7 linked regions of the Homo sapiens genome follow. The protein of the gene in region 1 purifies or fractionates together with the protein of each later gene. This does not show direct contact. Each region holds a gene or a part of one and is shown on either strand. Other genes may lie near its edges. The genes, in order: CALD1, MYO5C, SPTBN2, TRAP1, IARS2, SRGAP2B and PRR11.

Region 1 (3,298 bases):
ATGTGACAACACTGGCAATGAGAAGGAGGATGGAGGGACAATCGATAGTTACTTTTTTTTTGAGACAGGGTCTTGCTTTGTCACCTAGGCTGGAGTGCAGTGGTGCTATCAGGGCTCACTGTAGCCTCGACCTCCTGGGCTCAAGCGATCCTCCTGCCTCAGGCTCCCAAGTATCTGGGACTACAGGCATATGCCACCATGCCTGGCTTTTTAATTTTTTTTGTACAGAAAGGGGTCTTGCTATGTTGCCCAGGCTGGTCTTGAACTCCTGGGCTCAAGCAATCCTCCTGCTTCCCAAAGTGCTGGGATTAGAGGCGTGAGCCACTGTGCCTGGACGATAGTTTCTTTTAGGAAGGATTTGCAAAATCCCTCTTCAACCTTTTCCATACGTGTTAGGTCAGTTGTCAACATAAGACCAATTTTCTATATTTTATTAGGTAATTTAAAAATATGAAAATGCTTTTCTTCTTTAAAGAGTGAAACCAAGACTCAACCTGAAATACAGGTTTTACTGTGCCATAATCTTTATTATAATAGACATACCTCTCACTATCAATATTGTACATAAAAATAAGTGAGAAAAAGACATTTTGCAGGAAGGAATTCCATTTATTGTGGATGCATTTTCACAATATATGTTTATTGGAGCGATCCATTATCAGTGAAAAGTATCAAGTGTTTATAAAATTTTTAGGAATGGCAGATTCACAGAACATGCTAGTCAGCTTGCAGTTTTACCTCGTAAAGATAACAGAGAATTATAGTCAAACCAGTAAACAAGGAATTTACTTTTCAAAAGATTAAATCCAAACTGAACAAAATTCTACCCTAAAACTTACTCCATCCAAATATTGGAATAAAAGTCAGCAGTGATACATTCTCTTCTGAACTTTAGATTTTCTAGAAAAATATGTAATAGTGATCAGGAGGAGCTCTTGTTCAAAAGTACAACAAAGCAATGTTACCTTACCATAGGCCTTAATTCAAACTTTGATCCATTTCACTCCAATGACGGGAGTCAATGCTACCTGGGACACTTGTATTTGTAAATTCTGATTTAGCTTATTGTAGACTTGTGCCTACTTTGTCATGAGGGTTTGACTTCTGCATTCTTCATGGCTTTCCTTCCTTTGGCTTAGGTTTGCTAAAGCTAGAAGATTCAATTGCTCTTTACAGACTTATGAGGAAGATAGACTTTGTAACGCAGATGTCACTTCTCATGCCAGCCCTGCCCTGGTTAGCTCTTCTGGAGGAATACTGCAGATAAGAAAATAGTTATTTGGGAGGCTCCCTCAGTGTGGTAGGAATTGAGACTAACACAATTTTGGTTAAGTCCACTGAGGTATGAGTTTATAGAACTCCACTGTATGTATCCAGCTATACTAGAACATTTTGCCAAGACACTGGAGGACTCTTTCATTATCTACTGTGAAGAATAAAGACTTAGAGGCTATATAATAAGTTCTGGATTGTGTGTGTAAAAATCATGAGTTAAAAAAGACTTGGGGGAGAAAGTAAAACTAGTAGAAGTTACATATAATTTTGAAATTTCACCACATTGTCAACTTACTACAGGTATCAATGACAAATAAAAGTAGAAAAGTTTGAAGAAATGCTTCAGAGTATATAAAGATCAAAGTACTGTCATGACTCCTCAACACTGGATTTTGCTCACTTTACTTCTCTGCTTCTAGACATTTAGCCAAAGGTAGTCTTTGTTGAGACTCATACATGGAATTTCTGTCTGTACAATATTGGCACTAAATTTCTTGTCTTTCAATTTTAGAAAAGGAAGAGACCTTATGACCTATTGTGAACTTCATTGTTTCTAATAAGTAGGCTTTGAGCTTGGTCGAGATGATAGCATTAATAAAATTCACACTGGACTTCAAGAATGCATTTAATTATAAACTAAATACTATGTCTTTTAGAAAATTTCAACTCCTTCTAACAGTTCTAATCTCTCTTCTTTTCAATACTTTCTTCTTATAGGTCATCAGGCATTGAAAACATATTGATACCTATCTGCCATGTTTCTGTTGGCAAATATAAAATATTAATATAGTGTGATTTTTTAATTTTTCAAAAGCTGTGATATTGGCTAGTTACAATGACATACTACTAAATATAATAGTCTAGCACATAAAAAAGCATTCTACCATTAGTGTGTTTGTATATGTGTATGCACATACATACATAATTGAGTTATCTAAAATGTGGTTCAGGCTACTATCACTACTAAAGAAATCCACAAAACAACCAACCTAAAAAATCAGTACCACTGTCAGCTAACATAATAATGTAATTTAGATATGAATCATCAGCATGAAAAAAAGTAATACCTTAACAGTACATTTCTTTTTTTTTTTTAAAGACAACCATTATTGCAGTATTTCAAATCTGAAATGGGTTACTTTCAAAAAGTGTTACAATTGCCTACTAAGATAATTTCTTCCATGCTTTATTATAAAGTGCAGAAACAACATGACTTCTGTATTTAAAAAAACAAAAACTACGGTTCATTTTTCTAGATACTGCACACATTCCGCAGGCAATTTTAAACTTGGATCTTCTGTTGACTTCAGATGTGGTTGGTATCACTGCTCAGATACAGAGTTATGATGATCAGTAGAAAAGTCTCTATTTCACAGCATGGGTTTCTTTAGAAACAGGCTCCTGTGCAAAGGCAGTACTTTTACCATGAACATCTCTAGACTGTGATTATTAAATATAGTGATAATATACATGGGTTTACTGGGATATTGAAAAATAAAAGATAATGAACCCAATTTAGTAAATCAACATAAATACAAAACAGAGCGAATTAGCCCTCTACAACTGAGCTCGTCCTGCGTCTTGAGCTTGGGTTCTTTCTGGAACTGTCTCAAACCTGCCAAGAGAAGAGAACTTGAAATTGACAGCCTGTAGTGTGAAACTGACAGCCTGCAGTGTTTCAGGCAGATGGTTTTTATAGTCAGAAGAAAAATGAATAATAGTATGGCAGGAATAAATATTTATGAAAGGGAGGATTATTATCGGCATTCCATTCAAATATGATCTTTTATTTTACTTTTTATTTTTTTGAGATGGAATCTTGCTCTGTCACCCAGGCTGGAGTGCAGTGGTGTGATCTCAGCTCACTGCAACCTCTGCCTCCCAGATTCAAGTGATTCTCCCATCTCAGCCTCCTGAGTAGCTGGGGATTACGGGCATACACCACCACGCCCGGCTAATTTTTGTATTTTTGGTAGAGACGGGGTTTCCCTATATGTTGGCCAGGCTGATCTCAAACTCCTGA
Region 2 (3,500 bases), on another chromosome or scaffold:
AGGTAGGATCAGCGCAGCTGGTGGACCACCCTCCCCTCAGCCCTTGGCTTGGCTGGGGCTGCTGTGGTCTTCCTGCTTAGGGGTTCTGTGATTGGTTTGCTGCCAGGCCTTGCAGGGACCCCCTCTGCCATGGTGCACCCCACCTGTTGCTGGCAGGCTGGTCGCTGGCTATTCTTGACATCTGTCCTTTGGATCTTCACTAGGGCCTTGCTGATCTTATGCATTTTCAGTTCCCATAGGAAAGGGGCCCCGGGCCTCTCCCTGAGCTTCCGGAACCCTGACTCTCCTTAGTAACACTCTCACCAGCGCTTCCTCCCTGCAGGGCCCTGGGTGTCGGCTCACCACACAGACACCAGGCAGAGCCAGCACTACCTGCCCCTGAGAGACGGACCTTTCTTGCCCTAATGCTCACGACCACAAAGGGGACCCATGCACGTCTGCACCCTGGGTCACAGGAGAAAGGTCCCTTGTCCTTGATGAGTCCTCCCCGCCGGAGATGATCAGCACAGAAAGCCCCACAGTTCCACATGTGTTCCTTGATTCCAACATACCTCACAGTTTGCTGACCCCGGAAGTACTGCTGGATTATCAGGGCGGCTCGTCTCTCTCGGAGGAATTTTTTCCTCTGGAGCCAGCCACGCATGTGCTTTTGTACCATAACACAACTCTGCCTCAGTTTATCCAATCGAAGTTTCTCTAAATAAGCCACTTGTCCTGCTCTGAAGAAAATTTTGGTTTTACCAAACTGGTACTGATTAGAATCCTGGAAGAGAAAAATGATATAGTTAGAATTAAAATCTGTCAGATTTTCTATAATACAGTATTTGGAAAAGAGCTTTAGGGATTCAAAGGTGCCAGAAATATTGTGATTTTGACATTTAAGGCAGAAAACTCACATCATGATCTAGAAATGTATACTTTGAGTTGTTTGTTTAAAATTACCCTGGAGGAAGAAATGGGACTTAGGCTGAGGAATCCATTTGTGGGTGAGAAGGGGAGTGAGTGTCATTTGCGGCGATTCTCAGTTGGGCTGCCAGAGAACTTCAGCCACTCTCTCGTGGTCTCCACATTGGAGTAGAAGAAACTGGGGAAGTTTGGTTTTCTGTCTCCATTTTGGGTTCTCTTCACCATCCCCTTTGCTGGACCTTATAACTCCCCATCTCTTTCCCATCACAACTCATCGCTGCAGCAATGATGTCAATCCACACAAGGCACCATGCCTGGAGCCCATGTGGCTTGGTGACAACCCCAGTTGACCATATCCTATAAGCCTGGTCCACAGAGGACTGGGTTAGATCGTGGGAGAGCTAAACAGGATACGAGGACACTGGGGAGGCCGGAGTTCGGATGTGGGTCCCTAACGGGGACTCATGGCCCACTGAGCACTCTGCTATGGTCTCTTCAGCAGACAAATGCTCAGGGCACATTTTCTTTCCTTTCAGGTGTTCATGATTACAGTCCTGAGCATTCAAGACAAAGATGAAACAGCATGTTTGGGAGATGTGCTTCCAGGAAGGAGACCATGATCCCAGGAGGTGGGGAAACTGACCTGGATGAGTCTGTGTAAAACCACCTTGCACACCTCCTTTTTATCGCTGAAGGAAAGCTCTTGCTTGGTCATGAGAATGCCGTAGCGACTGTAGAACTCGATGTATGTCCACCTGGAAAATCAAAGGGGATCAAAGCCAGGAGTGTCAGAGGAAGCACATTGTGTCTGGGGACTCCGCTGCCTTACCTGCCACTGTTGTCATAGGGCGGGGGTGGTGCAATCTGTCCTGAGGATAAAGGCACTGATCTTTGATACCCTGCCTGCCTGGGACACTACCAAGACCACCCTGAGCACTCCTGTCTGCCCCAGCAATTGTGCTCTTTCTCCCACTCAGCGTCTTCCCTAGTACACGGGGGAGGCGGTGGGGCCACCACCAGCAGCCGAGATGCAGTGATGGGGTGAGAAGGTGGTGTTGACCTCCGACCCCTACAAAGCCTATTTCTCAACCTCTTCTGGACTTCCACAGGGCAGTGGGAAAATCTTGGGGGCACTTTACAGAAGCCAAAAGTATGTGACAAAAATCATGGCAGCCATGTCCTTGGTTCTCAGCATAGCTCTGATGTCAGGTACTTTTCCCTCCAAGACAAGGACGGACAACATACCTGGAAGGGTAGCTCTGTGCACTAATGCGAATCGTTTCTAAAACGCCGCAGGCTCGCAGCTGCTGAACAATTCTTTTGGAGTCAAATCTTTAAAAAGACAATGATATTATGTGTTGAGGCATCGTAATTGCTCAACATGCCCATAAACAGGCACAGCAGACCTGGCTAGACTGTGACCCTATGCCAGGTACCCAGCAGATACTTAATAAGTTTCTATTGCATGACCAAGAAAAATAGCACCTCTGCAAAACAGTCCATAAAGATGCAGTGGGATATAGAGAAAGGAGCAGCTGACTCTGATGGAGGTGGCATTGAGAAGGCCATGGGGGAACTGGCCTTTGAGGTGAGCTTCAAACGACAACCAGGTGGAAAGAAATATGCTAGCTCGCCTGGCCCAAGCACCCACTGATGCTTGAATTTCCTCTACAGAACACCCAACAGGTAGCTCTGCAGCTTAGGTCTCACCCATCTGGTGACCCATACACACACTCACCACCTCCATAGACAGCTCATCCCCCTTTAGGCACCTCTTTCAGCTCTAGCAAGCTACAAGGGACTTGTTACACCTTATATTCACAAGCTTTGGGTCTCCTCCATGGGTCCCAGAGAACAAGAATAATGCCTCATGCCATCATGTCTGAGGACAAATGTTCTGACCTTCTATGACCTTCTACAAACACACATACTCATTCTTCTTTTAATCAAGTAAAAGGTTCAAGTTGCAAAAACTTTAGTTGTAGAAGATTCTTTCAAATCTAGCCCTTTTGCTTAGCCCTGGAGATGAGGGGGTTTAACCAGAGGGGCTGAGCTAACATTTTATGTAAAGGGCAGCATTGTTCTGAATCATTAAAAAAAAACCCAGAAACAGGGTAATCTCAAGACAATTGGAAGCAAATTCTCCAACTTTATGGCAGAAACTGCCTTCCCACGTCTTCGCTGTGTGTTGCATAAGAACACTTACTCAAAGGGTAACTTCTCATCATTTGGCTTGATGCATCGAACGTAGTGGGGCGTCGTCGCATTGAGGGTCTCCATGAGCAAGTACAGAGAGCTGCGGAACTAGGAAACAAAGCTAGAGATCAAACATGGCTCTGAAATAATTTACTGCTTACATCACGGTAAAAAGCAGCCCAACCTTGTTAAGTTACTCAATAGGAAGAAAAGTTAACCTCATGCATAAACACCTATTATGAAAGGTTTCAGTCCGTGACTGTGGTTTATCAGCATGTCCTACTGTTGTGGACAGAACACTAATACTCCCAGACAGCAGAGAACTGAATAAACCATGTTATTGTGCAAGAGCGTGGTTTGCTCCAGTGCGTGCTGCCTTGGAGGTGGAAGTATGACGA
Region 3 (3,500 bases), on another chromosome or scaffold:
CGTGTCCAGGAGTTGGTCTTCCTGCCCCCAAGCTGCCTGTGAGCCTCTGCCCTCTCCCATCCCATCCCCAGTACTCCCCCACCCGCACTCACCACCCCCTCTGGACCCTTCGCCTCACAGTTATCAACACCACACTTGCAGGGGAACTCACCGGCCCTTCGGGGAAGCTGCTGTGCTCAAGTCTCTGTTGTCCCAGCAGGGGCTGCAAGGACAAGAATCTGTAAAAGGATGTGCGGGGGTGGAGGGGCTACGACTCCGATGGGGGCACAGAGGGACAGTGGGGTCACCTGTGAGGGCTCTCCATCTGTGCAGACTCCATTAACACTGGGTGCTTGTGTGGATGGTGGTGGCCGTGGCTGGGTTCTGGGATGACCAAAGGCAACACAGAATCATTAGTCCCTGGGTGGCCTGGGCTCAGCCGCCTCCTCCTACCCAGGCATCCTGGCTCTCACCCGTCCCAGGTGGTGTCAGAAGCTGTCTGGCCGCCCACCAGGTCCCCTGGAGGCACACTGGCTGTGGGTTCGGGAGCAGGCGGCTGTTTCCGCCGCTCCTCCTCCTCCCTCTTTCTCTTTCGCTCCTTCTCCCGCTCCTCTAGCTGTCAAAAAATGCTGCATTCAGCGTGTAGAAGGTTGCGTGTAAGAGGGCCAGGGAAACAGGGAGAGCTGAAATGTCTCAACTCTAATTTGATGAAATATGATAAGAGGAGAACAGAATTTGAGAAGATGGTGGGGACAAGAAACAAAGCGGGAGAAGGTGTCTCGGCATCACCCAGGGGAACTGACACCTCCTAAAGGTGTGGTGACAATGGCACTCTCAGCTCACATCTGGGGGCCACTGGTGCAGTGGGAAGAGAGAAGACATGTCTTCTCCAAGCAGAAGCCAGCACAGGTCAGGGGAGCAGGTTGGAGTGGGCATCCGGGGTCCTGTGTCCCTCACCGCAGTAAGCTTCTCCAGCGCACAGAATCGCTCCTCCCAGGCCACTGCTGACTTCTGGAAGGCCTCGTGCCGCTTGATGAGGCTCTCAACTTCGTCGACCGTGCAACCCAGCTCAGCGCTGCGCACCAGTGGCTCCTGGCTGCAGAGCCAGGCCTCTGCCATCCCTGCATCTCTTCCAAACACAAGCACCTCCAAAACTGGCAGGATCGGGGGTTGCAGGAAGATGGTGGGTCAGAGTGGCCACTGGCAGGGCACAGTGGCCATGGCAACCTCAAGAACAGGGACACAGAGAAAGCCACTGCCCCAGAGCTGTGCCAGGCAGCACGAAGATTGGGCATCGTGAGTTTCACACCCAGGGTTCCTAGTCTCACCTACTCTGGAACCCACAGGGTGCAGGATGCCCCCCACTCCCCACAGGGCCTGGGGCCCCCTTGGCAGCTCACCCAGCTGAAGCCAGTCCATCTTCTCCTGCCACTTCTCAGCTGTCTCCTGGCGCCGTGCCTGCAGCTGAGACAGCTTCTCTGAGATCTGGGGGCGGGGGGCAGAGATATGAGTTAGCACCAGGATGTGAGATCTTTCCACGGCCCCTGGGGAGTCATCCAGGGGGACAGGTGATTTCTTTCTTTCTTTCTTTTTTTTGAGACGGAGTTTCGCTCTTATCACCAAGGCTGGAATGCAGTGGCGCAATCTCAGCTCACTGCAACCTCCACCTCCCAGGTTCAAGCAATTCTCCTGCCTCAGCCTCCGAGTAGCTGGGATTACAGGTGCCCGCCACCACGCCCGGCTAATTTTTGTGTTTTTAGTGGAAACGGGGTTTCACCATGTTTCATCACAGCCCAGCCACACAACCCATGGAGGCCAGGCTGGTCTCGAACTCGTGACCTCAGGTGATCTGCCCGCCTGGGCCTCCCAAAGTGCTGGGATTACAGGCGTGAGCCACCATGCCTGGCCCAGGACCAGTGATTTCTGATGTCAAGAGGCAGACGGTTCTGGGGAGAGATTTCCAGAATGCGAGAAACCCGTGAATGGCACTGAGGGGAGAGAATGAAAGGTTTCTTGCAAAGAGAGAATGAGAGGAAGCAGAAAGCCACCAAGAAGTCAGCGTTCAGCACTGCACAGTGAGAATGGCCCGGCCACCCAGGCCTCACCCACCTCCTCGGCCGCATAGTGGCTCCTGGCCAGCAGCTCCTTCCCCATGTCGATGCAGGAGGAGAAGCGGTCTGCCCGGGCCTCTATCTCTGCCTTGATGCCTTGCTGGTTCTTGATGACTAGATCCGCGGAGGACACATCCCTGGGGGGAGGCAGAAACAGCATCACCTGCTGCCCACAGCCCCATCACAGCCCAGCCACACAACCCGTGGAGGCCCTGAGCCCTGGGATTCTCACCGGGGACGCTCCTGGGCATCCATCTGCAGGTTGACCTCATCCATCCAGAGCATCAGTTCCCGGACAGCCTTGAAGAAGCGGAACTTGTCTGTGGTGTCCAGCAGCAGCTGCCGGCGGGCGGCAGAGCTTCCCTGAAGCTGGGCCCAGGCCTCGGCCACGGCCTGCATGTGGCGGCCGATCTCCTCAGCCTTGTCTCCAGCGTAGGCCTTCTGGAGCCGGTGGCCGTCGTCCTGCACCTGCTGGACCTGCGGAGCCCCGGGTCAGAGTCAGGCAGAGCGGGGGACTCCAAGGAGCCGCAGCCTGCCTCAGTCCTGGCTGCCACTCTCACCTCCTGCCTGTCTCACAGCCAAAGAAGCAGGGGGAGGAGCCAGGGAGTGGGGGTGCTGGGAAAGATGAAGGCAGGGGCTGGCCACACTCTGCCCTGTTGGGTCTCATCTAGACACCTGGGCTTAACTGGGGGAGGATCTGGAAAAGAGCCATTGGCCAGTTGAACTTTCAGAGGCCTGTCTAGGATGTGATAGACCTTGGAGATTGCTAGAACGTGCTACTTAGCCTGAAAAGGGGATTCAGGCAGGGGCTGATGGGTTCTAGTGGTTGAAGGAAGGATCCATGCTTACTGAGTGTGAGCCTAGAGCTCAAGCCTGGGAAGCACTAACAGGCTGATTTAGCGCAGCATGAAGAGTCTCCTGGCCACTGGGAACCCCTGAAGACATCATGGGCTCTCAAGGGGGCTTGTCATCAAAAGTGTGAATGCAGTGGCTAGATGTCCCCTGCCAGAGATGTTTTCTTTCTTTTTGAGACGGAGTTTCGCTCTTGTTGCCCAGGCTGGAGTGCAGTGGAGGGATCTCAGCTCACTGCAACCTCCGCCTCCTGGGTTCAAGTGATTCTCCTGCCTCAGCCTCCTGAGTAGCTAGGATTACAGGCATGCGCCACCATGCCTGGCTAATTTTGTATTTTTAGTAGAGAAGGGGTTTCTCCATGTTGGTCAGGCTGGTCTCGAACTCCCAATCTCAGATGATCCGCCCTCCTCGGCCTCCCAAAGTGCTGGGATTACAGGCGAGAGCCACCGCGCCTGGCCAAACAGAGATGTTTTCTTGGAGCAATTTCCTCATCTCGAAATGGCCCTCGAAAGAGTGCCGTCCTCCCAGCATTTCTGAGCTCTACCCTAGCTCCTGGGA
Region 4 (3,500 bases), on another chromosome or scaffold:
GGCCATAAATATAAGGACCACATAAAAATTTAAGTCAAAAGACAAACACCCGGGTGAGGTGGCTCATGCCTGTAATCCCAGCACTTTGGGAGGCTGAGGTGGGTGGATCGCCTGAGGTCAGGAGTTCGAGACCAGCCTGGCCAACATGGTGAAACCCCGTCTCTACCAAAAATACAAAAATTAGCTGGGAGTCGCAGCGGGCATCTGTAATCCCAGCTACTCCAGAGGCTGAGGCAGGAGACTTGCTTGCACTCGGGAAGCGAAGGCTGCAGTGAGCCAAGATCGTGCCACTGCACTCCAGCCTGGGCAACAGACAGAGCGAGACTCTAACTCAAAAAAAAAAAAAAAAAAGACAAACACATTAAGAAAAAAACTGGGGGCCAGGCACGACGGCTCCTGCGTGTAATCCCAGTACTTTGGCAGGCAGAAGTAGGAGGATCACTTGAGACCAGGAGTTCAAGACAAGCCGGGGCAATATAGTGGGACCCCATCTCTAAAAAAAATGTTTTTTAATTAGCCAGGCATGGTGGCACATGCTCCTTGGGAGGAAGAGGTCACAGCCACTTGGGAGGATGAGGCAGGAGTATCACTTGAGTCCAGGAGGTCAGGCCTGCAGCGAGCCAGGATCGCACAACTGCACTCCAGCCCGGATGACAAAGCAAGACCCTGCCTCTAAAATAAAATTTAGTGCCGTGGCTCACGCCTGTAATCACAGCACTTTGGGAGGTGGGGGCGGGCAGATCCCGAGGTCAAGAGTTTGAGACTAGCCTGGCCAACATGGCAAAACCCTGTCTCTACTAAAAATACAAAAAAAAACAAAAATTAGCCAGAAAGCCAGGAGCAGTGGCTCACACCTGTAATGCCAACACTTTGGGAGGCTGAGGCGGATGGATCATGAGGTCAGGAGTTCAAGACCAGCCTGATCAACATGGTGAAATTCCATCTCTACTAAAAATACAAAAATTAGCCGGGCGTGGTGACGGGTGCCTGTAGTCCCAGCTACTAGGGAGGCTGAGGCAGGAGAAATGCTTCAACCTGGGAGACGGAGGTTGCAGTGAGCCAAGATTGTACCACTGCACTCCAGCCTGGGCGACGGAGCGAGACTCCATCTCAAAATAAATAAATAAATAAATAAAAATAAATGAGCCGGGCATGGTGGCGCGTGCCTGTAATCCCGGCTACTTGTGAGGCTGAGGCGAGAGGACTGCTTAACCTCGGGAGGCGGAGGTTACAGTAAGGTGAGATGGCGCCACTGCACTCCAGCCTGGGCAACAGAGTCAGACTCTGTCTCAATTTTTTTTTTTTTTTTGAGATGGAGTTTTGCTCTGTTGCCGAGGCTGGAGTGCAGTGGTGCGATCGCGGCTCACTGCAAGCTCCGCTTCCTGGGTTCACGGCATTCTCCTGCCTCAGCTTCCCAAGTAGCTGGGACTACAGGCGCCCGCCACCATGCCCAGATAATTTTTTGTATTTTTAGTAGAGATGGGGTTTCACCGTGTTAGCCAGGATGGTCTCGATCTCCTGACCTCATGATCCGCCCGCCTCGGCCTCCCACAGTGCTGGGATTACAGGCGTGAGCCACCGTGCCTGGCCCGACACTGTCTCAATTTTTAAAAGTTATTTAAAAGGGCTAGCGCAGAGGTTACGGTGAGCCAAGATCACGCCACTGCACTCCAGCCTGGGCACCAAGTGCAAAACTCCATCTCAAAAAAAAAAAAAAAAAAAAGAAAAAGGCCATTGGTTCAAGAGAAAAATGGCCATTCACAAAAACAAGAAACATCAATGGCTTTACGTCCTAGTAAAAGATGTTTTACCACACTCATAACTAAGGAAATGCACTTTAAAACGAGATAGCATTTTCACTACCAGATTGACAGATGTTTTAAATACTGTCATTCTAGCACTGGTGAAGGTGTGAGAAACTGTTGGCAATGCCGTCTGTTATCTTGGGGAAACTCAGCAACAACCTAAATGTCCGCCATGAGAGGGTTACATAAATTACAAAACATCCTCGCTATGGAATACCAGAGCTCTGTGGCGACAGGAAACAAACCCCAGAATATAAGTGGAAAATGCAAGGTACGGAAGATTACACACGGTTCCTTCCCAGTTTACCTTTGTTTCCCTTTTTTTTGTGTGTGTGTGTGAGACGGAGTTTTCGCTCTTGTTGCCAGGCTGGAGTGCAGTGGCGCCATCTCGGCACACCACAACCTCCACCTCCCAGATTCAAGCGATTCTCCTGCCTCAGCCTCCTAAGTAGCTGGGATTACAGGCATGCGCCACCACGCCCGGCTAGTTTTGTATTTTTCGTAGAGACAGGGTTTCTCCATGTTGGTCAGGCTGGTCTCAAACTCCTAACCTCAGGTGATCCACCCGCCTCAGCCTGCCAAAGTGCTGGGATTACAGGCGTGAGCCACCGCGCCTGGCGAGAAGATTCTTAAGTACATGAACATTCTGAACAGAAAGACCTGTATTCCCTCACAAATGTCTGAGTTCTTAGCTCTGGCATTCTCAACACTCACTGTTTCTTGAGGTTTCCTGTGTTCCAGAACCTGGTCTAATCGTTCTCTACTATGATATACTGATACTTCATTCATCAGGAAACATAACTCCTTGAACATAAAGAAAAAGAACAAAAAGCGAAAGGGCACCTCGGAATAGTCAAAATATGGGCCTGAAGCCCTCACCCTGAGCTTTGCTCATGGAAGACTACTGGCCCCATATGAAATCCATCTCATTCTAACAATTTGATGCTAACAAGTTTCCCAGCCACATCTGCAAACTAGGAAAGGAGAGAACAGGGCTCCAGACAGACCTGCAAGTTAAGGCCACAGTAAGAGAGGCCAAAAATATAAACACTCACAATGCAGTTTTGATGTGGGGACACTTCATAGACGAAGGATTCTTCACATTTCAATGGCCCTACGGGAGCCTACATATTAAAACAGAAGACCAAACATTAACACCCGTAATAATGACCCTGAAAACATCCAAGAGAGGTTCAGTCATGGGCCATCAAATGATGGAGTGTTCTAGAAAGACTTCTCATCATAATGGTTAAAATGAAATGTTTTAAAGTCAGCCTCGTGGAAAATTCGCTTGAACATTCCATTGCCTGACAAATGCTGAAATACTGGCAAGTGTGAACTAACATGGCAATGTGCTGTCTTAATTTCTCCTTCGAGGTGCATATCACTAACCCGACACACATAGTTACATTAGAAGGACCCACGTCCTTCTGTCTTCTTCTCAGCAGCATTGCTGAATAGCCTCCTGCTCTTAATATGGCATTTAATTTAGCTATCTCAAAATTAATTTCTTTTATATGTGTGTGTGTATATATATATATATATATATATTTTTTTTTTTGAGACACTGTCACTCTGTCACCCAGACTGTAGTGCAGTGGCGTGATCACAGCTCACTGCAGCCTCGACTTCTCAAGGCTTAAGGGAGCCTCCCACTTCAGCCTCTTGGGTAGCTGGGACCACAGGCACACCCAG
Region 5 (3,500 bases), on another chromosome or scaffold:
AGATACCATTGTTAGAATGAGCTCAATAAAACTTCCTCCTTAACCCCTCACAAGAATGGCTAAATATTTTAATCCGGGGTATACATAATAGGAAATTTTAGAATCAATACTGGGGAACAGTGGGCAGGACTGGGCCAGTACTGGGGTACTAAGTATCAAAGCAGGGGGACACAAAAGAGGAATGGGAGCAAGTCAGCCTAACATAAACTTCATATACAGTGACCATTATTTATTCAAAGGACAGAAAGAAAATCTCTCTCCCTCTTCTGTCCCTAGCCCTCAGTTCCCAAGATCATCAGGTAAGATAGTTTTAAGAGCGGGCTTAGAAACTTGGCAATTGTTTTTATTATTTCCATAGAAAGATGTATTCCAAGTATATATCTACCTTTAGAATAAACCCAGTCCACTGGAAAGTTGGAGATGACCTATAATTATTCAATTCTCCAGATGTTACTTGTTACTTTCATCTCCTTCTTACCTTCTAAGTTGATGAGGAATTTCCCTTTAAGCTCGATTACATCTGCAGTCATCTCTCGTGGTTCCTGAGCCAGTAAAGTTGACTCAGAAGCCATCATTAATTCATTCAACTGAGAGGTGCTGGAAGTCTCTTCAGACTGCAGCATCTGGAAGGAAGCATGTGAAAGTTACAGTTTATGTTAAATTTGTACCATAAACTGAGGTTATAAAAAGAAACACTATAAAATCTCACGTTTAGAGAGGAACCTTCTGGTATACCATTGCATCCTGAGCAAACATCACTAAATGTATCAATCCTAATTAGCATAAAAGGTTTTAACTAAATATTTCCATCAACAGTATTTATTGAGAATGCCAGGCACTTCACTTTGCTAGATCCTAAGATGTCTCTTACTTCTAATTGTCACATACATACACACAAAAAAAACCTATATGGTGTTTATTATCCTCACTTTACAAATGAAGAAACAAGCAAAGAGAGGTTAACTTGCCCAAGATTCTCAACCCATACGTGGTGGAACTGCAGGTCAAGCCCAGGTCTGTCAGCCTCAAAGCCTTTTTTTTTTTTTTTCATGTATCATTGGGTGAGGGGCTAAAATACTATCTCAACAGGTACCAGCTTTTAGTAATGTATACTGATAGTGGCAATCTGAACAATACGCAGAACACTTATGAAGTAGACTGAATTTGTCTGATGAACACATTTTTCTCTGTAATTTTGATCTTCAAAGTGAGTTTGTAAGCTAACCAACATAGACATTCCTTTAAAAATTAAAGCCCATGAGAAATAAGAGACTCAAAGAGATTAATTTGGTTTTAACAAGTTTATGCAATTAGTAATGGATAGAACCAGGACTCCATCTTACAGCTACTTGGTATGATTCCTAAGGAAAATACATTCATGTTTTTGAAAATCCCAAAGTATTTTTTCCAATAAAATTGATCCAAACAAGCTGTTCTTCTTTTCAGTTCATTACTTAGAAAGACTGAAGACAAAGGAAACACAGTATGTAGGAAAAAAGGCCAGGACTAGGCTGTGTTACCCTGTCTAGGTCACAGCTTCAGCAGTCCTCACTTCCTCACTTGTAAAATGAACAGCTTCCCAAGTTTTAAATTTTAAAATGGGAAAATCTCATCTATTATACCTACTAGCTATTTCAAGCTCAAATCTTAATCTTGCTAATTACATCATTAAAAATTTAAATTGAGCTTACCATACAAAATAAGATGGATGTTTTTTAGAAAACTGACACTAATAAAACTTTTAAAAAATAGCTCTTCCACCGTCTTTCTGCACCACCACAATGGTGCGCATGAATGTCCTGGCTGATGCTCTCAAGAGCATCAACAATGCCAAAAAGAGAGGCAAAAGCCAGGTGCTTATTAGGCCGTGCTCCAAAGTCATCATCCTGTTTCTCACCGTGATGATGAAGCATGGTTACATTGGCAAATTTGAAATCACTGATGGTCACAGAGCTGGGAAAATTGTTGTGAACCTCACAGGCAGGCTAAACAAGTGTGGAGACATCAGCCCCAGATTTGATGTGCAAAGCAAAGATCTAGAAAAATGGCAAAATAATCTGCTTCCATCCCGCCAGTTTGGTTTCATTGTACTGACAACCTCAGCTGGCATCATGGACCATGAAGAAGCAAGATGAAAACACACAGGAGGGAAAATCCTGGGATTCTTTTTCTAGGGATGTAATACATATATTTACAAATAAAATGCCCCGTGGAAAAAAAATTATATTCATTGCCAATTCTCTTCTTAAGCATTTAGACTGGAGAAAAATCACATCATTATGTTAAGCTATAAGCCAATCTGGCCAATCAACCCCTAAAAATCCCAAGAATAAAATTCTGATGGCCCTTCTAGAAATAAAAATAGGATAAATGCTTTGAAATATATGTGGTAACTTGCTGGAGAAAATGAATTTTCTCCAGATTTCACAAAATAAAAATGGAAACTCTTTTTGGGTTTGTTTTGAATCTGGTCCAGATGGATGAAATTCTCAGGAAACCTGACCCTTAATACAAAACTCCCATTTTTTATACATTCAAAGACGATCGCGATCAATTTATATGTCCCCTGTCTTCTAAATAGTCCTGAGGCCTTTTGTTTGAAACAGAACTTTATCTATTCCTTCCCTATCCCTACACAGTAATATGTATGTGTTACATGCACAGAACACGTTTTACAAGACATGGAAAAGAATATGGTGAAATAGGAAACAAAAGAATCAGTGATGATATCAGGATTAGAAGACGGAAACCCTAATTTCTAAATTAATTTTTTTTTAATTTAGACACTTTTTTTTAAATGTGCATGACTTTGCTTAATTTATTAAAAGATATTTAAAAGTGAAAAAGTATGTGAAAAGGAACATAATAGAATAATTGCATAGTAAAGTTACACATAACCCAATGTTATTTGATTAATTTAGACACATTTTAAAAGCAAATTTCAGGCAAAGCTCTATGATACTAACACCATTTCAAAAGGTACATATTGCTGCATACCTCTATTATCTCAAAAAGCAGTCCAGGTTCTATCACAGTGATAACCTTGTACTCAGCTGCATTTTTGCCAGGGATGCTTCCAAGAAATGAGTCTCGCATTGCACACGCACTCTCCACAGCTTCTTCCAACCCGGGCTTTTTCCAGATAGAACTAGTACTAATCCACCCAGTACGGAAAACACTCTTGGGCTCTTCAGAAGAACAAAAATAGTAAACTGCTTTACAAACATCCTAAACTGTATATGAAGCTCTAACCATTAAATAGTTACCATTAATGGGAAATAAGAATTGTTATTTATGGTAATCAAGTGATGAAATATTATGGATCCATCCTAATTATTTACAAAACATTTATATCAGCATTGGAAAATCTTTGTTATATTTAAACAAAAGAGAAAATATATAATAAGATCTCAAAGAAAAAAAGGATGCTTAGAAAAAAATAAATAGAAATATCCCAATATTAACAGCTATCAGGAGTAACATTATAAGTGACTTCCCCC
Region 6 (3,500 bases), on another chromosome or scaffold:
TTTGCTCATTTGCAAACTAAGTGACCTATCCCTACTTCTTCCTGATCTTCCTGCAGAAAGTAAGACTTACTGAGACACAAGGTAAGAAGCCATCTGAGCTCAACAGAAAGCTGGATCACCCGCCCTTTTGAACCGCTTTTTGAAAGCAAATACACTGAGCCCAGAAGAAACTCACCCTTTCCTAAGAGGATGGAGATGTTTGAAGTGTCAAAGTCAAAGGCCTCTGTTTGTTTGAACATGCTGGAAAAAGCTAGGCATGAGGAGGTGGTTTCAGAGACACAATATTGTTCACACAGCTGCCAAGTGCCATTTTGATTAAATGTGTAGAGGGGAAAAAAAGCATTTCGCAAAAGCTCAAAATAGAGCACAACCTTTGGCAATGCAAGAGCAACTTCCTGGAGTTCAAGGGCAGGATGTAGCAGAGGGGGAAAGTCCAAGCCTACATTTGGCTAGGAAATGTTTGCGGCCGCCCGGACATTCTCTGCATGCTCCTTCCACCTGCTCCCAGACGGGCAGCAGCAAAAGTTTCAACAGGGAAACTAAGAGTGTGGCTTTGAGCCTCCTAAGGAAGAAACTCACCTCTTCGTTTTCAATCTTTAGAGTGGATAAGCGAGACTGCAGTTGTTGGCATCTCTGTAGCAGCTCACTCTGGACAGGCTGCTGGGCACAGAGCTGGGAAGCCTAACAAAAGAAAGCAACACCAGGTCAGAAAGAGGATACAGTCCCTTTGGCAGTTCCAGAGTTCCCATTACTGGCAATGAAACTACCCATATTCAAGGTATAAGGCTCGTGGTTTCTATGTTGAAGCAAAACCCAAAGCCAACTTGTGTGAGCCTCTTCCAGGACCAAACAGTACATGAAAGGAATGGGTAGGGGGATCTGTTTGGAGCCCGGCAGGGGTAGGTCTAGGTAGGGTCTGCAGCTCCATGGAAGGCTGAGGAGGCTGGAGAAGAGTGCCTCAGGCAGCTCCGGCTCCAGAAACACAATGCTTTGGCACAGTGAAGATTTCCTGCCAAAGGTCCAAGTGGCCACCTCTCTGGCCCCTCCCTCATCCCCCTTCATACACCAGAGTGAAAGCAGGAGAGAAGTGGGTCAGGAGGCTAACTTGCCACTGCTGGCAGCCAGCATGTGTTTACAAATCCAGGCCATGCATGAGAGCTTTGATTCAATGAGAAAGCGTGAAGCCAGGAACAAGTTCGTTGCCTATGCTTGAGGGCCCGAGAGGGTATGGAATCTGAAGGAGCTTGGCATTTTCCAAAGAGCCATCATTTTACCAGGCCTTCCCTAGATCTGTAAGAGAGGAGTCTGACCTTCCCGCAAGGATTATTGCCAATTAGCTTTCCCCTGTGTGAAGGAATGGCTGTTCCACTGTCTCCCATTGGAGATGTGGTTATGGGATGAGGTCATCCACAGTCCCCTGGATGACAGATGAGGAGCAGAAGGCTGAGAGAGTTGGGAGGCAGGACCCATGTGGAGACAGCTCCTGTCACCTTGTTACCGTTCGTCCTTTAGCCTCTTGCCTGCAGAGAGACATCTGGATAGAAATGGCCTCCTTCCTCCTCAGCAAAGAGTGGGCACATTCACATGCCCACGGACCATTCCCTTGCTTGAAAAGAAAAAACCTTTCTTCAAATGGAGGGGGCTGGGACTTGACCTTTTCCTCCATTGGCTTTTAAGCTCCCAACTGACTTGACCTCTTCCCCCAGCTGAGAGGCTGGCCTGAGCCAACTCTCAGATCCACAGAGAGCTGACTTCACTCTAACTCTTGGATAAGCAGACACAATGGAGAAAGCTCAGTGGCCAGAACCGGTTAGCGCCAAGAGTGAAATTCTCTGGCTGCCTGATGTCACCAGTCAGGCATCCAGAGTCCCACAGCCTCTGAGGGCACCAAAAATGGAGCCAAGCACCTCCTCCTAGTACATCTGAGAGCACTTGGCATCAATTCATGTGCTGTGCACCCCAGAACACCAGTTAGTGTGGGACCTTGGCCAATTTTAAGGCTTCCGGTCAAAATGCTACCCAATCTTTGGCCCTAGTTCAACGACTTCCAGGCAGCTCCCTCCTGTTGCCTCCACAATCTGCAGACAACCCACACTGATGGGGATAGACTGGCTGCAGAGGCCAAGAATGACCCACCCTCTCATCTCTTTTTATTTTCACTCATATGAAGGCTAGGCTAGAATGCGGAACCTTCACAAGCTCCAGGACTGGTCCTGGCCCCTGCCTGGCTCAGCCACTGATCAGCTATATTACATAAAGGGAGGGCCCTGGCAGAAGAGTGAGCTATTGATTTTTAAAGTAACCCAGACCTAGCAGAGAGGAATCATGGAGGGAAAAACCACCTCCAAGCCTGTTCCTTTAAGAAGTAGCAGAGCTGATGATGATGCATGCTTTGGCAGTGGTCCGCTACCAGGGTGCAAGGTAATACACTTCAGCTGCACTCCGGAGTATGGAAATAAGGCTCTGACAGGGGGAGGAGGGGGCTTGAGCACCCAGCATCTGGATTCCTCCTTTATGGAGACAAGCTGTTTGGCTCAGAAGGCAACTCAGTCACTAACACCAGAAAATGTATCACTCCACTCAGCTGGTCCCCAAGTTCCACTGATCCCTGGGAAGGAACCTCAGTGACAGCTGGAGAAGGTGCTTGGAAGGCAAGTTTGACCAGAAGCCAGGGCAGGTGAGGAATGGGGCTTCCTGAGGCTTGGTGACACCCCTTCCCCCAATTCTAATTGCACATGCTGCCATCTCACTTCTCCATCTGTTCAGACACTGACATTTCCTAAGCCACAGCAATGGAAATGAACTGTAAATGGTTTGATTTTCCCCAAGAAGGAAAGGAAGGAAACCAACTCCACATTTCTATCTCCAGGACAGCATCTCACTCTCCATAGAGGCCAACTGATGACAGCAAATCCTCTGGTTCCACTGCCACAGCTGTCATTCTGGAGTGGGGATTTCTAGAGTCTGGATGCTAATCTTAAGGGAAGCATCATTCCTGAGGAGCACACATGTTGCTGTTTTTTGGTCCCCGGCGTCCACTCCTCCTTTTTTTGGTAGCTTTGGTCTAACTGCCCTCGGTGAGGGGAACCTCCCACTCCACAACTCAGGCCACGTGCTTTGCATGGACCCAGGCATAAGCACTTTACCCAATCAAAACCAATGAGACACACAAACTTTATGGGGGCTTTGAGGAGGGAGGCAGAGACTCTTTCCACTAGATTTCAACCTACCAGGGAAGGCTGGAAATGCAGTCACCTTGCCTCCATGGGAGAATGGCCTGTCTGAGAATGGAGTTAACACACAGGAAGTAGTACAGAGACAGCAAAACAGTGTCTTGGTAAAATTCCTCCTCCTAAAGCCAACTATACCCAAAGGTCCATCTTGATCTTTTCTATCGCATAAGCCCTATACAACCTCCTTCTAATTTCACCAGTAGGAGAAATGGTGGCTCTTATCCACAGGAATGAGGTTCACTCTGACTTGTACACACAACCACACAA
Region 7 (3,500 bases), on another chromosome or scaffold:
CCGAGGCAGGTGGATCACAAGGTCAGGAGATCGAGACCATCCTGGCTAACACGGTGAAACCCTGTCTCTACTAAAAATACAAAAAATTAGCCGGGCGTGGTGGCGGGCGCCTGTAGTCCCAGCTATTCGGGAGGCTGAGGCAGGAGAATGGTGTGAACCCAGGAGGCAGAGCTTGCAGCGAGCCAAGATTGCGCCATTGTACTCCAGCCTGGGCGACAGAGCGAGACTCCGTCTCAAAAAAAATTAAAATAAAATAAAATAAATGAGTTAGTTGTATATATTAAAAAAAAAAGTCCTAATTTATTTATTTATTTGTCAAGGCAGAGTCTTGCTATATCGCCCAGGATGGTTTCAAACTCCTGGCCTCAAGCGACTTTCCGGCCTTAGCCTCCCAAAGCACTGGGATTACAGGTATGAGCCACTACACTCTGCCATGTCCCTATTTGATTAAACCACTATAGTCAGATTTCTGATACCTGAAGCCAATGCAAAACCTGATACAGTTGCTTCACAGTTTAAGAAAAAAAGAAGCCTAAGGGTTGGGTGGGATAAGTCATCTATATCTAACAACAATTTTAACTAGACATCCTCCTCCTGAGTAGATTTTGGCAGCACAACATATGCCATAGGTCTTATCTGTGATTTTTGTTGTTGTTCAATATGTGGCTTTACAATTTATTATCGTTTATCCATTTCCAGAGTTCTCAACTCACTGTACCTGCTATGAAGTAGGGGCAGTGACAACAAAGATCTTAGAGCTAAACAGAAAAAGCAAGGGGCTAAGACCCGTGAGGCCTCGTCCCTTTGCTCCTGCCCTTCACAATTTTGGGTATCACCAAGGAACTTGATTAGGGGTAGCATGCTCTAAGAGGAGGAAAGAAGAACCTGGTCACATCTCCACTACGCAGAAAGCTGTATAGTGCCCAGTAGGACCAAGTTGATTGGTAAGAGAGAAATTATATTGTCCCACAAAAAGCACTGATTCTCAAACACGGAACAAAAGGAAGACAATATTGGGGTGGAAAGTGTCAGCAGTGGAGTCTGCTATGTCCCTGCATCCAGAGAGAGAACGAACTATAAACTTCAAAGCCAAAGATGCCAGCAGCCCTGTGTTCCAGCACTCCAGCAGGGGCAGCCGACGGATGGCTGTTCTTCACAGATCTAATGATAGAGGCAATTAGGGAGATGACTAAGATCAACAGGGTTTGGAAGAAGTCACACCAGGGCCAGCTGATCTACTGGGTTGGGTATGTGGTTGTATATGAATGTGACAAAGAAAGCTCTCAAGACCTTTTCCTTTCAACTCTGCAGGGTCTGACTCCTAACTACATCTCCATCCCTGTCTTTCACCACCATTGGGCTCCCTCTCTGTGTTACAGCCACACTGGTCACTTCTTAGTTCCTTGAATAGGCCATGATCCCTCACCCCATGGAACTCTTACGAATTTTGTTCTTTTTGCCTGGAACTCTCTCCTTCCTGACACTCATGGTGGACCCACCCCACAGTTACCCTATCCAGTAAATGCCTCTTCCTTCTTCGACTCTCACCTCAAGCATCATCACTTCCTAAGGGAGTCCCTCCTAGATCATCCAGGCTAGATCAAGTTCCTCTCTGGGTTCCCACAGAACCTCATTCCTTTCCTTCATAGCACATACTGCCATGTGATATTATACAAATATGGGATTATTTGATGAATGCCTATTTTCCCCACTAGACTGAAAGCTTCAAGACAGTAATCTGTATCTGTTTTTGCTTACCACTATATTCCCAGTACTTCAACACACTGCTGGGCATATAGGAAGTGCTTAGTAAATATTTACTAAAAATATGTACTAAAGGGATTAATAAAATCAGACATTTACAGATAGACATGATAATCCTACCTATAGTTCTTTTTTTTCTTTTTTTGAGACAGGGTCTCACTCCGTCACCCAGGCTGGAGTGCAGTGGTGCAGTCTTGGCTCACTGCAACCTCCGTCTCCTGGGTTCAAGCGATTCTCATGCCTTAGCCACCCAAGTAGCCGGGATTACAGGCACGAGTCACCATACATGGCTAATTTTTTTTTTTTTTGAGACTAAGTCTCGCTCTGTCACCCAGGCTGGAGTTCAGTGGCACAATCTTGGCTCACTGCAACCTCTGCCTCCCAGGTTCAAGTGATTCTCCTGCCTCAGCCTCCCGAGTAGCTGGGACTACAGGCATCCGCCACCACACCTTGCTAATTTTTGTATTTGGGGTAGAGACGGGGTTTCACCATGTTGGTCAGGCTGGTCTCAAACTCCTGAGCTCATGATTCACCTGCCTCGGCCTTCCAAAGTGCTGGGATTACAGGCGTGAGCCACCGTGCCCGGCCATTTTTGTATTTTTTTAGTGGAGACAGGGTTTTGTCATGTTGGCCACGCTGGTCTCAAACTCCTGGCCTCATGTGATCTGCCCACCTCGGCCTCCCAAAGTGCTGAGATTACAGGCATGAGCCACTCACTGTGCCCGGCCAATCCTACCTGTATTTTATAGAATTTTATGAAGCCTAAATATGAAAATACTTTGCAAAATACGGTACCATTTAAAAATTATTGTTACTAAGAAAGCTGCTTTAAATTATGATCATAAATTATGATTATGATTATTTATTTGAGACAGGGTCTTGCTTTGTCACCCAGACTGGAGTGCAGTGGTGCAATCACAGCTCACTGCAGCCTTGACCTCCTGGGCTCAAGTGATCCTCCAACACAGCTTCCCAAGTAGCTGGAACTACAGGCATGCACCACCACGCCTGGCTAATTTTTTGTATTTTTTGTAGAGACAGAGTTTCACCATGTTGCCCATCTTGAACTGCTAGGCTCAAGCAATCTCCCCACCTCAGCCTCCCAAAGTGTTAGGATTACAGTCATGAGCCACCACACCAGGCCAAATTATTTTCAAGCAAAGGAACCAATATTCTTTTCCTAAAGGGTTACCTGAAACTTTCTCCTTAAGGCCTGCGTCATCACTGGAGTCAGTCCTGTTCCTGTTTCCATATTTTCCTTATTGGTAAGAGGGGTTCCACCTGGGCTCCTGCAAAGGTATTGAAAATAACAGTAGCTGTATTTTATGGCAACTTTTAAAATGGACGTAGAAGGCATAAAGATATGAGAGTGTATTACCTCTCTACATCGACTTTTCTAAGCAGTTTCCGCAGATCCATCTGACTTTTTCCAGGAGTGCTGATAAAACAAAGATATAAAAATTAGAACTTTGGGAGGCTGAGGCAGGTGGATCACAAGGTCAGGAGATCAAGACCATCCTTGCTAACACGGTGAAACCTTGTCTCTATTAAAAATACAAAAAATTAGCCAGGTGTGGTGGTGGGCGCCTGTAGTCCCAGCTACTCGGGAGGCTGAGGCAGAAGAATGGCGTGAACCCGGAAGGCAGAGCTTGCAGTGAGCAAAGATTGCACCACTGCACTCCAGCCTGGGCAATAGAGCAAGACTCTGTCTCCAAAAAAAAAAAAAATTAGAACTT

What was found.
Region 2: the proteins of CALD1 (region 1) and MYO5C purify together in Homo sapiens (affinity purification with mass spectrometry; one large-scale study listed by BioGRID and IntAct). This does not show direct contact.
Region 3: the proteins of CALD1 (region 1) and SPTBN2 purify together in Homo sapiens (affinity purification with mass spectrometry; one large-scale study listed by BioGRID and IntAct). This does not show direct contact.
Region 4: the proteins of CALD1 (region 1) and TRAP1 purify together in Homo sapiens (affinity purification with mass spectrometry; one large-scale study listed by BioGRID and IntAct). This does not show direct contact.
Region 5: the proteins of CALD1 (region 1) and IARS2 purify together in Homo sapiens (affinity purification with mass spectrometry; one large-scale study listed by BioGRID and IntAct). This does not show direct contact.
Region 6: the proteins of CALD1 (region 1) and SRGAP2B purify together in Homo sapiens (co-immunoprecipitation; one large-scale study listed by IntAct). This does not show direct contact.
Region 7: the proteins of CALD1 (region 1) and PRR11 purify together in Homo sapiens (affinity purification with mass spectrometry; one large-scale study listed by BioGRID and IntAct). This does not show direct contact.

Annotation. Positions count from the first base shown.
Region 1 is NC_000007.14:134,967,932-134,971,229, reverse strand, and holds the end of CALD1 (caldesmon), read right to left. Parts: intron 2,891-3,298; coding exon 2,885-2,890; 3' UTR 2,677-2,884; coding exon of another isoform or gene 2,641-2,676; 3' UTR 501-2,640; downstream 1-500. UniProt on the Homo sapiens protein: Actin- and myosin-binding protein implicated in the regulation of actomyosin interactions in smooth muscle and nonmuscle cells (could act as a bridge between myosin and actin filaments).
Region 2 is NC_000015.10:52,243,805-52,247,304, forward strand, and holds part of MYO5C (unconventional myosin-Vc), read right to left. Parts: intron 3,211-3,500; coding exon 3,113-3,210; intron 2,239-3,112; coding exon 2,152-2,238; intron 1,662-2,151; coding exon 1,550-1,661; intron 764-1,549; coding exon 552-763; intron 1-551. UniProt on the Homo sapiens protein: May be involved in transferrin trafficking. Likely to power actin-based membrane trafficking in many physiologically crucial tissues.
Region 3 is NC_000011.10:66,687,717-66,691,216, forward strand, and holds part of SPTBN2 (spectrin beta chain, non-erythrocytic 2), read right to left. Parts: intron 2,568-3,500; coding exon 2,323-2,567; intron 2,228-2,322; coding exon 2,089-2,227; intron 1,465-2,088; coding exon 1,380-1,464; intron 1,134-1,379; coding exon 937-1,133; intron 596-936; coding exon 453-595; intron 364-452; coding exon 288-363; intron 203-287; coding exon 152-202; intron 1-151. UniProt on the Homo sapiens protein: Probably plays an important role in neuronal membrane skeleton.
Region 4 is NC_000016.10:3,707,525-3,711,024, forward strand, and holds part of TRAP1 (heat shock protein 75 kDa, mitochondrial isoform 1 precursor), read right to left. Parts: intron 2,879-3,500; exon of another isoform or gene 2,861-2,878; intron 1-2,860.
Region 5 is NC_000001.11:220,142,632-220,146,131, reverse strand, and holds part of IARS2 (isoleucine--tRNA ligase, mitochondrial precursor), read right to left. Parts: intron 3,189-3,500; coding exon 2,998-3,188; intron 2,215-2,997; exon of another isoform or gene 1,756-2,214; intron 624-1,755; coding exon 479-623; intron 1-478.
Region 6 is NC_000001.11:144,892,829-144,896,328, forward strand, and holds part of SRGAP2B (SLIT-ROBO Rho GTPase-activating protein 2B), read right to left. Parts: intron 682-3,500; coding exon 580-681; intron 1-579. UniProt on the Homo sapiens protein: May regulate cell migration and differentiation through interaction with and inhibition of SRGAP2. In contrast to SRGAP2C, it is not able to induce long-lasting changes in synaptic density throughout adulthood.
Region 7 is NC_000017.11:59,197,246-59,200,745, reverse strand, and holds part of PRR11 (proline-rich protein 11), read right to left. Parts: intron 3,203-3,500; coding exon 3,143-3,202; intron 3,054-3,142; coding exon 2,957-3,053; intron 1-2,956. UniProt on the Homo sapiens protein: Plays a critical role in cell cycle progression.